2 separate regions of the Homo sapiens genome follow, and region 1 is linked to region 2. Evidence: fine-mapped QTL for protein levels in blood plasma. Region 2 holds a variant in brackets. A gene starts in the other region. All regions are shown on their forward strands. Region 1 holds the start of HPSE (heparanase). Region 2 overlaps BALR6 (B-cell acute lymphoblastic leukemia associated long RNA 6).

The links. A credible set is the group of variants that fine-mapping cannot tell apart. PIP is the posterior inclusion probability: the model's chance that the variant is causal. Protein levels are from antibody-based Olink assays in UK Biobank. Linkage for the fine-mapping came from a reference panel and not from the study's own genotypes, which makes the PIPs less certain.
Region 1: HPSE starts here. The variant in region 2 is the best candidate, but not a certain one, in a credible set for the plasma level of the HPSE protein (UK Biobank, PIP 0.60).

Annotation. Positions count from the first base shown.
Region 1 is chr4:83,332,559-83,336,954 of GRCh38, forward strand. It overlaps HPSE (heparanase), which reads right to left and starts at 2,290. Exons shown (of 12, transcript NM_001098540.3): 1 at 1,998-2,290. The coding sequence starts at 2,224.
Region 2 is chr3:18,206,956-18,211,351 of GRCh38, forward strand. The region is part of intron 4 of BALR6 (B-cell acute lymphoblastic leukemia associated long RNA 6); the gene reads left to right. Among named protein-coding and RNA genes, the nearest start is that of SATB1, 220 kb to the right of the region's middle. The variant C/A (reference allele first, on the strand shown) is at 2,062.

The DNA.
Region 1 (4,396 bases), not on the chromosome of region 2:
CATTATACTCCAGTCTTTAACAAAAAGGTGCAGAGGAGGGGAAAAAAGGGTGCTCTGGGAAATGAAGAGATGTATTTAAGAAGAATAAAGGTATCATCCTCACTAAATTGCAGATTGGAATTTCTACGTGTTAGGGGGGTGTTAGTCAATTGCGGGGAGCTTGACTGCTGGGTGATCAGGCCCAGATCCTGGAAGTCCCACTGTATGTTTTTTCTTTTGGACCTGTTACTCCAGGGGGGAACCCCCATCTGTCCTTTCTTGGGGAGAGGTTGGGGAATATGCTGGCTACAGCAATAGAAGAGGCCTCAGGTCCTCACATTTCAGTAAATGGACATCTACTTCATACCCATGTTCAGTAACCGCCCCCCCCCACCCCACACCCCAGCAAGCTAAGACTGGGGTCCTGTGATCTGGAGCCCTATGGTTCAGCATTTCTCTGGAACAATCTTCCTATCCCCCAACTAGTTGCTGCCTAGTATCAGCTTCCTATCCTTAAGGGGAAGGGCAGAAAGTAAGGATTCTTCCCCACCAGAAAATTGTAGTGCCAGAAGGAAAAGGAGAGGTTAACTATGATCCAAAGAAACAGAAAACCGGTGAATGGCTACCAAATGCTCACCATGTCCTAGAAAGAAACAATTCGTTTGAAACGTCAAACACTTACTATGGGTCAAACACTGAGAAGCTCTTACCATATCATCAAATCCTCGGGCAATAATCCTTGAGGCAAGCTTGAGAAATTCCATTCTACAGCTGAAGAAATCAAGGTTGGTGTGGCCAAGAGATATGGAAAAACCAAGTCACTCATCTTTGCCAGAGCTGAGAGTCAAGCCAGGATGGTCTGTCCATCTCTTAACCAGTACACTACCCATTAAATTAGCGCTGGCAACTATAGTGTGGGCTCAGGGAGGACAGCATCTAGGTATTTGACACAGAGGTGAGATAATGGTGATCTTTCCCTCTATCTGGGCTGGTCAAGATGTGGCCATCTCTGGAGGCTCCCAGGGCCTAAATAAGAGGCCTAGAAGACCTGGGATTGTCCCTGTAGCTCCCCATCTTGGAGTCAGCCTGCATTCATGGGGCAGGAGCCCTGAACCTGCATCAGGTTCCTTCTTTCTCAGGTAAGGAAAAAACTTAGAGCTGATAAGGCAGCACCACATTTTGCAGCCCCATTTTGGAGAGACATCTTTTTATTAGGACTTTGTAAGTCACTGCAGTAGTCTCCTAGGTCTCATTTATTGAATATTTAGATTTTTATTCCTGTTCTGTGACGCCCTTTTCATCTGCCTAAAAAAAAAAAAAGAAAAGAAAAAAGAAAAAGAAAAGAAAAGAAAGAGAAATCTTCCTAACACAGTCTTAAATACAGAAGGCTATGCACAATCTTACTTGTCCTACACTGCACAGCAAATCAAGCACTCACAGGCCTTCAGGTGCACCTGCCTGGTTTCCCTCCTCTTGGCTAGGGAAGTACTGGGGCAAGTGGGCAGTTTCTTTTTCAAATTTCCACTTATACCTGACCTTAGGTGGTGCCTATTCAACACTTACAGAATGAATGAAACAAAAAGGCTCATTTAGAGTGGGCGCTAAACAATGTGTACACATGGACTTAGTGGAATAGTAGACACTGGAGACTCCAAAAGGTGGGAGGGTGGGAGAGGGATGAGGGATGAGAAATTACCTATTAGATACAATGTACAACATTCGGGTGACAGTTACACTAAGAGCCCAGATGCCACCACAATGCAATATACCCATGGAACAGAACTGCACTTGTAACCCCTAAATCTATTTTTTAAATGATACCCCCCAAAAAGCAGTTTGGGGTCTGAGAGTAAGGGAGGGAGAGGGAGAATGAGAGGCGGGAAGTGGGGTGGGGAGAGACAGGCGGGGAGGTTCCGGTGTGAAGTTGTTTCCGCGCAAAAGAAGGAGAGCGGCTGGCGGGGCAGACATAGGTGTCAGGAGGACAGGAAAGGGGACAGGACCAGGAGGCTGGCGCTTACCCCAGGAGGATGAGGAACCGCGGGTCCGTGGCCAGGTTGGCGTCAATGGTGACGGACAGGAACGAGGGGCTCACCAGGTGCAGCGGCTCCTGGGTGAAGAAGTCCAGGTCCACGACGTCCTGTGCTTGCGCAGGTCGGGGCAGGGCGCCAGGGGAGAGGGGACCCAGCGGCCCCAGGAGCAGCAGCATCAGCGGCGGCGGCAGCGCAGGCTTCGAGCGCAGCAGCATCTTGGGCTCACCTGGCTGCTCCCCCCGCCAGCTGCCGCGCAGCGGAGAGTCGAGAGCTCTAGCACTTCCTCCCGCCGAGCCCCAGCGCCCTTTTCTCCTTTCCTCCGCCCCGTTACGCCTCCTCACCCCTCCCACTGCGCCCTCCATCCCTCCCACTCCTCTTCTGCATCCCTCCCACTGCTCCCAATCCAACCCCGCCCCGCCTGCCCGGCTCTCTCCTACTTCCTTGCTCGCTTTCCCCTCGGTGGCGGTCACGTTCACTTACGAAATCACCCACACCCACTTGAAGGGTGCGGAGATGGCCGGGATCCAAGCGCCCGGGAGGCCTGGGGAGGAGCGCCCGGGGAGGAGCGCCCGGGGAGCAGCGCTGGGCATCCCGGACCAGGCTTCCTGACGCACGTGTTCTGCGCGCTCTCGTGGGAACCCAGCGTTTCCGACTCCCAGATCCCATTCTGATGGCGCCGGGTATCCCTCTGACCCTCGAGTAAAACCTCCAATGGAGTATTCATCCCTTCCTCTCCCATCTAGCTTATAAACACTTGCTTGTCACTTGAGCCAGCCAAAATCTGATTGTCCTCTGGCCAGGCAGTTTCTCAGGTATTTTACTTTTGCTTGAAAAAATCTGGCCTCAGCATACGCTAAACTGCAGCTGGAAAGAGATCAACCACCCAAAATTCTTTATCAACTTCTCATTAAGACAATATTTAGCAATCTTAAAGGGTTAGTTGCTCCAATGTCTGGAACTCAGGACCTGAAGCCCCCATACAAAGTGTAGAGTACGGACTGCCCCTGAATTTGGAGCCTTTGCCAAATTTCTCCTCTGCGCATTTATCTTTCGCTGTTGGTCAGACTTTTCTTCAGCTTTTCCTTGATGCTTACACTGATGTATAATCATAGCAAGCATCGCACGCTTAGTGCCTACTGTATGCCTGATACAGGTGCTTTACTTGTGTTCTCTTCCCTTCTCACAACCCTGCCAAGTGCATACTGTCCTTGTTTTACACATGCGGACCCAAGCTCTGAGACAGTAACTGGGTGAAGTGTCAGAATCGGGATGTGAAGTGTCAGAATCGGGATGTGAATGCAGTTACAAAACCTCGAGCAGATGGCAGTGTGTTTCAGCTGAAATGTAACTTCCCTCAAGGAAGCTTTCTCTCAATCTCCAGGCAGCTCTCCATGACACACTCTCATAGCATCCTCAATTTGTTAGACACTCTCGTAGCATCCTCAATTTGTTAGACACTCTCGTAGCATCCTCAATTTGTTAGTATTGTGATGTTGCTCAACATTGGCTTCATCTACTAGATTATATGCTCCACCAAAACAGAGATTAAGTTTGTCTCACACGCTATGCTAGCCATAGCTCAGGCATGTGATCATGTTGGTGCTTAGTAAGAGTCTAATAAATATTGGTTGAGTAAGCAAATAACACCAAAACCCTTAGATTTTTCCACTTGAGATTGTACCACCAATAAGGCAACAAATAAAAATAGATTATTTTGAAATGCATATCTAATTTGCATAAATCAGGCCAGGCATGGTATGTGATGCCAGTGATGCCATCATGCCTGTGATGCCAGCATTTTGGGAGGCCAAGGTGGGAGGATTGCTTGAGCCGAGGAATTCAAGAACAGCCTGGGCAACATGATGAAACCCCATCTCTACAAAAAATACAAAAAATTAGCCAGGCGTGGTGGCCCGTGCCTGTGGTTCCAGCTACTGGGGAGGCTGAGGTGGGAGGTTTATTTGAGCCTGGGAGGTGGAGGTTGCAGTGACCCTTAATCACACCACTGCACTCCAGCCTGGGTGACAAAGTGAGACCCTCTCTTAAAATAATAATAATAATTATCATTATTTGCATAGATCTACCTATTCTTAAGCAACTTAAAAGCTAAGCTCATAGTGAGTTTTGCAACTAGAATCAGGTTCATATCCTACAATTACTGTATACATATGAAAAAAAATTCACACATAAACACCACACTACCAGAAGAGTGTAATAATATGGTAGCAGACGTGGAGTTGGAAAAACAGAAGTTTCTTTTCCACATTTGTCATGACATTAATCTTACACCCCACCCCATGCCCCTGACTCCTGTTGTGAGTCAACAGTCATACCAATTTCTTTCTTTTTTTTTTTTTTTGAGACGGAGTCTCGCTCTGTCGCCCAGG
Region 2 (4,396 bases):
TGTTTATGACAAGTCTTTGTTTTTTTCTAGTTGTTCATAACTACCATCAAAAGCTGAGGTTCTAGAATGTCCATTTAAACATCCAGGGCACTACTGTCAGCAAGAGATCATTAATCCAGTGAGAGTATAATTAAAAGAACAGTCTTCCATCCTCCCACTCCAATTTCCAAACCTGAATAAGATGAAAATATATCTTTATTCTTGTTGCTTTCCACTTAGGGTTGTAGTGGCTACCTTACCTAAAAATAAGATTACATTGTAAAGCAAGATGTCATTTCAAAGTGTTTGTGTGTAGCTATAGAGGGCTATATGGCTTTGTTGCTTGAAGAGACTCTTATCTATCAACAGATGTGTAGGCATGGTCTGGTTGTCAGAGAATGAATAAAGAGAAGCTGATGATGCACCATACCATAAAGTGAAACATTATTTCTGCTGCAGCAAGAGGAAGATTATATCGCACATATGAAAAATTTCCTCCTTCAATATGAGTGTCAACTGCATGGTTTCTGAGAAGTATAGTTTCATGTTGCATGGGATGTGTGGGAGGTGAAGGCAGTTAGCTTCTGAATATTACAGCGTTGCCACCACACGTTAATGGAGAGACCTTGAGATGGGCCAGGCATTGAGTGCCATAATGCACCCTGGTTCTTGAGGCTATTTTAGAACACATAATTTACACTTTGGGAAATGTAAGTTGTGAGTTATAATATCCACCCCTCTTTCTTATGAGAAGGGATCTCTCCATGATATAACCAATTGTCCTGTGGGAAAGATATAGAATGTTCCAGAAAGAGGGATATAGTTGTAATAGAAAGACATTAGAAGGGCTCTTTTTGAAGAGAAGTAAATCTAGGAATTGGAAAATACCCACAGGGAAATGCTTAAGGTTTAAATTTTTGTGCTTTACTCTTAGACCAACTGGGGGTGATTTTGCCTCTTTCCAACTATTTGGCAATGTTGGGGGACATTTTTTATTGTTACAACTTAGGGCAGGGTGCTGCTGGCATCTAGTGGGTAGAGGCCAGGGATGCTGCTAAGCATATTACAATGCCTAGGACAGCCCCTTACAGCAAAGGATTATCTACCTCTAAATGTCAGTAGAACCAAGGTTGAGAACCCCTATTTTAGACTAAGAATAGCCACATTATGCTCCCTAACTTAAGTTCTTTTCCTTGTAGTTTTAATTCCCATCAGTGGAGTATGTTGTGTACATGTTATTTTGTGCTCATGGTGCTATGGAAGATGATCAGGAGGGGGCAACATGGGGAAACGTGGTCTTCCTCAGATCACCCCACTTCTGAAGTGTATCCCCTGGTGAACGCATCACATCTGGGAGGAAATGAATCTCCAGTTCCAGGCAGTAACCAGCTGCAAAGAACTCAGTGGCCTATTGTGACATTTATTTCTTTGTTGTCTCTGAGTCCCAAGCCCACATTTTCTCTATATTCTACTAGAAGTCTGCAAGCTACATTTCCCAGATTCCTCTGCTGGATAGATTCCCATTAAATTCTGCCTTTGAGCAGCATTGGCAGGAGACTGCAACATGAGAGGATGAGAGAAAGAGTCCTTGGACAACATCTTCCTGTTTGCAGCTCCTGGCACATCTCTTTAGCAGCAGAGGGCAGCTATGGCTCCAGTCTCCAGCTTTTAAAAACCCTTTCAGACCCATCCCTTAGAGGTACCATCATCAGCCCTGTGTCTGGACCCCCTCAGAGACCTAATTATCAGTGTGTGGCACCTCCATCCCTGAGCACTGGCAACATGGGGCCCTTCCTCTTGACTCCTAGGTTTTGGTGCCCATAAATTTTCCTTTTGGTTCCCTCAAACCTAGGAATTGTAGCTGCTTCCTGTGGCTACTATTGCTTCTGGGTTTCCTTCTTGCCATTAATCTTCAACATCTGTGTAACCAATTGCTTTTATTAAGTCCTCTCCATTTGAATATCAGGCATGTGTCTATTTTCTTGAACGAACACTGACAGATATACCAGGGTAGAGCTGAGAGTAAAGAGCAGAAGCAGGCAGTGTAGAACAGACGCTACCACGTGGCTTTTGGGAGGCCAC[C/A]ATGAGTTAGCACTCTTTTCTTCCAAACACATCTAGTAATGCTAGGATGTGGAGAGGCTGACACATTACCCTAGTGAAATGCAGAAGTGTTTGCTCCTAATCTCTGTGGTACAGAGGAGGAACTCTGAGGTTGACTGTTCTTCCTTTTGCATGGAAAGACATCTATCTTTACACTGAGATAAGGGTGAGCAGGATGGGACCTCATGTTTTCCTCAGCTCACATCTCTTCTGGACTACTAGGCATTGTAGCCCTGGCAAAGAAGCTTCCTGACAACAGATGAAAGAAATAGAGAATCCAGATCACTCTAGTGAAGATACAGAGTGGAGAAAACCCTGTCCTGCCCTCACACCAGTGGGGGATACAAAAAGTTCTCCTATGGGGCAAGGGGTTACAGTTAGTCTGTCAGGCCACCAATAATTAATGACCAAGTTTGCACAGACAATAGCGGCAAAGTCACAAATGGTCCTGGCTGACCCATGACAATAAGATGTCAACAATTGTACTAACACACTCCAATTTCAGAGATGTCAAAACATGACCAAATGCTTATTGTAGAATTGGTTGAATATTGAAACTCAGAACCCAGACAGATAAATGGCAAAAAGGCTAATACAAATAGGAGAGTATAAACAAGAAGGCAAATACGTGTCAATAAGAACAAACACTTTGAAAATGGTGATAACTACCCATTAGGATACCAAATTAGAATTTATCGAAAGCCCAGTCCCACAGCAGCTTCCTCTTGGAGGTCACCAGATTCAAACAAATGTCAATCCCTCATTGGCATATGACAAACCTTTTTTTAACCTCTTTGGACAATACACCTTCATGAATTATGTTTTCCCCACAACTCTAGTTATGGATAAAGGCAAATTGGAAAAGCAATCATTTATGCCTTGGAAAATTTCATTATTAGATCACATTGGTTTCCAGCAACACGTTATTTTCTCCGTATGTTTTGTCTTACCACAGTCAGCATGAGTGTCTACTATCCTGAGAAATAAGCCATCCCTTTTAGGAGTTAGTGCTTGAATACCACATGATAACAGCATTTCTCTTCACTTCCCCCATTTGGCTGTGACATTACTTGGACACAGGCACAGAGCATTATGGGTTTATTCATAGCAGCACTACTCAAGGTCTGGACGACCAGACAGAATAGCTAAAACAGCTGATCTAGTTGCAGCAGTGGACCCTGGAGACTTAAGTGGACCATTGAAAAACAGTGTCTTAGTCTTCAAAGAGCTTATGGCTTCATATGGGAGATTGAAAAGTGAACAAACCCACTATAAATCCATATGCTGACTGCTGACATAGAAGTGTGTATACCTGGTGCTGTGGGAGCATAGAGAAATGACAAACTGGACAGTATTAGCGTTTCTGGAAGGTAAGATCAAAATTCAAAATGGAAATTATGTTTGGGATGAGTCTTGATGAATGACTGGGAATTTCCCAAGAAGACAGTGTTGCAAGGGAGAAGGATAAATTCCAGAATAAGGAACAGCATGTGCAAAGGGAGGGAGAGAGATAATGTGTGGGCATTCTGGACATTTTGGGAAGTTCAATAGGAATCATAAGATACATGGACTTTGTCCTGAAGATGATAGGGTTCTAGGAAGGAAGTAAAATGATTATATTTACATGTAAATTAAAAAAATTAAAAAAAAATGACAAAATGATAGAAAACGCAGAATTTGGTGACTGGTTGAATGCAGGACTTGAGGAAAAGCAGGGAGGGCTGGAAGATTTTGAGGATGGGGTTACTAGCATCTCTAATCAGGAATACAAAGCAATGGAGGAAAGTGAAAACCTTTGAGGTGCCCATGGAATATCTTCACATGGCTGCTCTATCTCAGCTAGAAGTGTAGCATAAGGGAAAGGGCCAGACTCTGGACGTAGATTTGAAAGCAATCAGATTCAGATGTCAGTTGAAGCTCTAGACATCGAAGAGATTGTTTTATGATTAAAAAACAAAAACAAAGGCCAAAAAAAGGAATGCTGGGACCTTTGAGCTAACGTTTGGGTGAATGGAAAATATAAAAACAGAAAGTAGATGGGGGAATAGAGCAAGGAGATAGAAAGTGGAGAGTGGAGTCACGGAAATTAAGGTAGGAGAAAAGTTTATGAAGGCAGTGGTCAGTAAGGTCTAATGCAGCAGAAGGTGAAAAATAAGCACAAAACAGACACTGTGGCTCCTTCTGCTTGAAGGTCCTACTGAACTTGAGGGTAGCCACAAGTTGAGGCCAGGCCTTTATGGGTGCACCATATGGTTTGTGGCTGGATTACAGAGTAGGGAATTCTCCACAAAGGTCAAAGGCTCTTTTTCAACCTGTT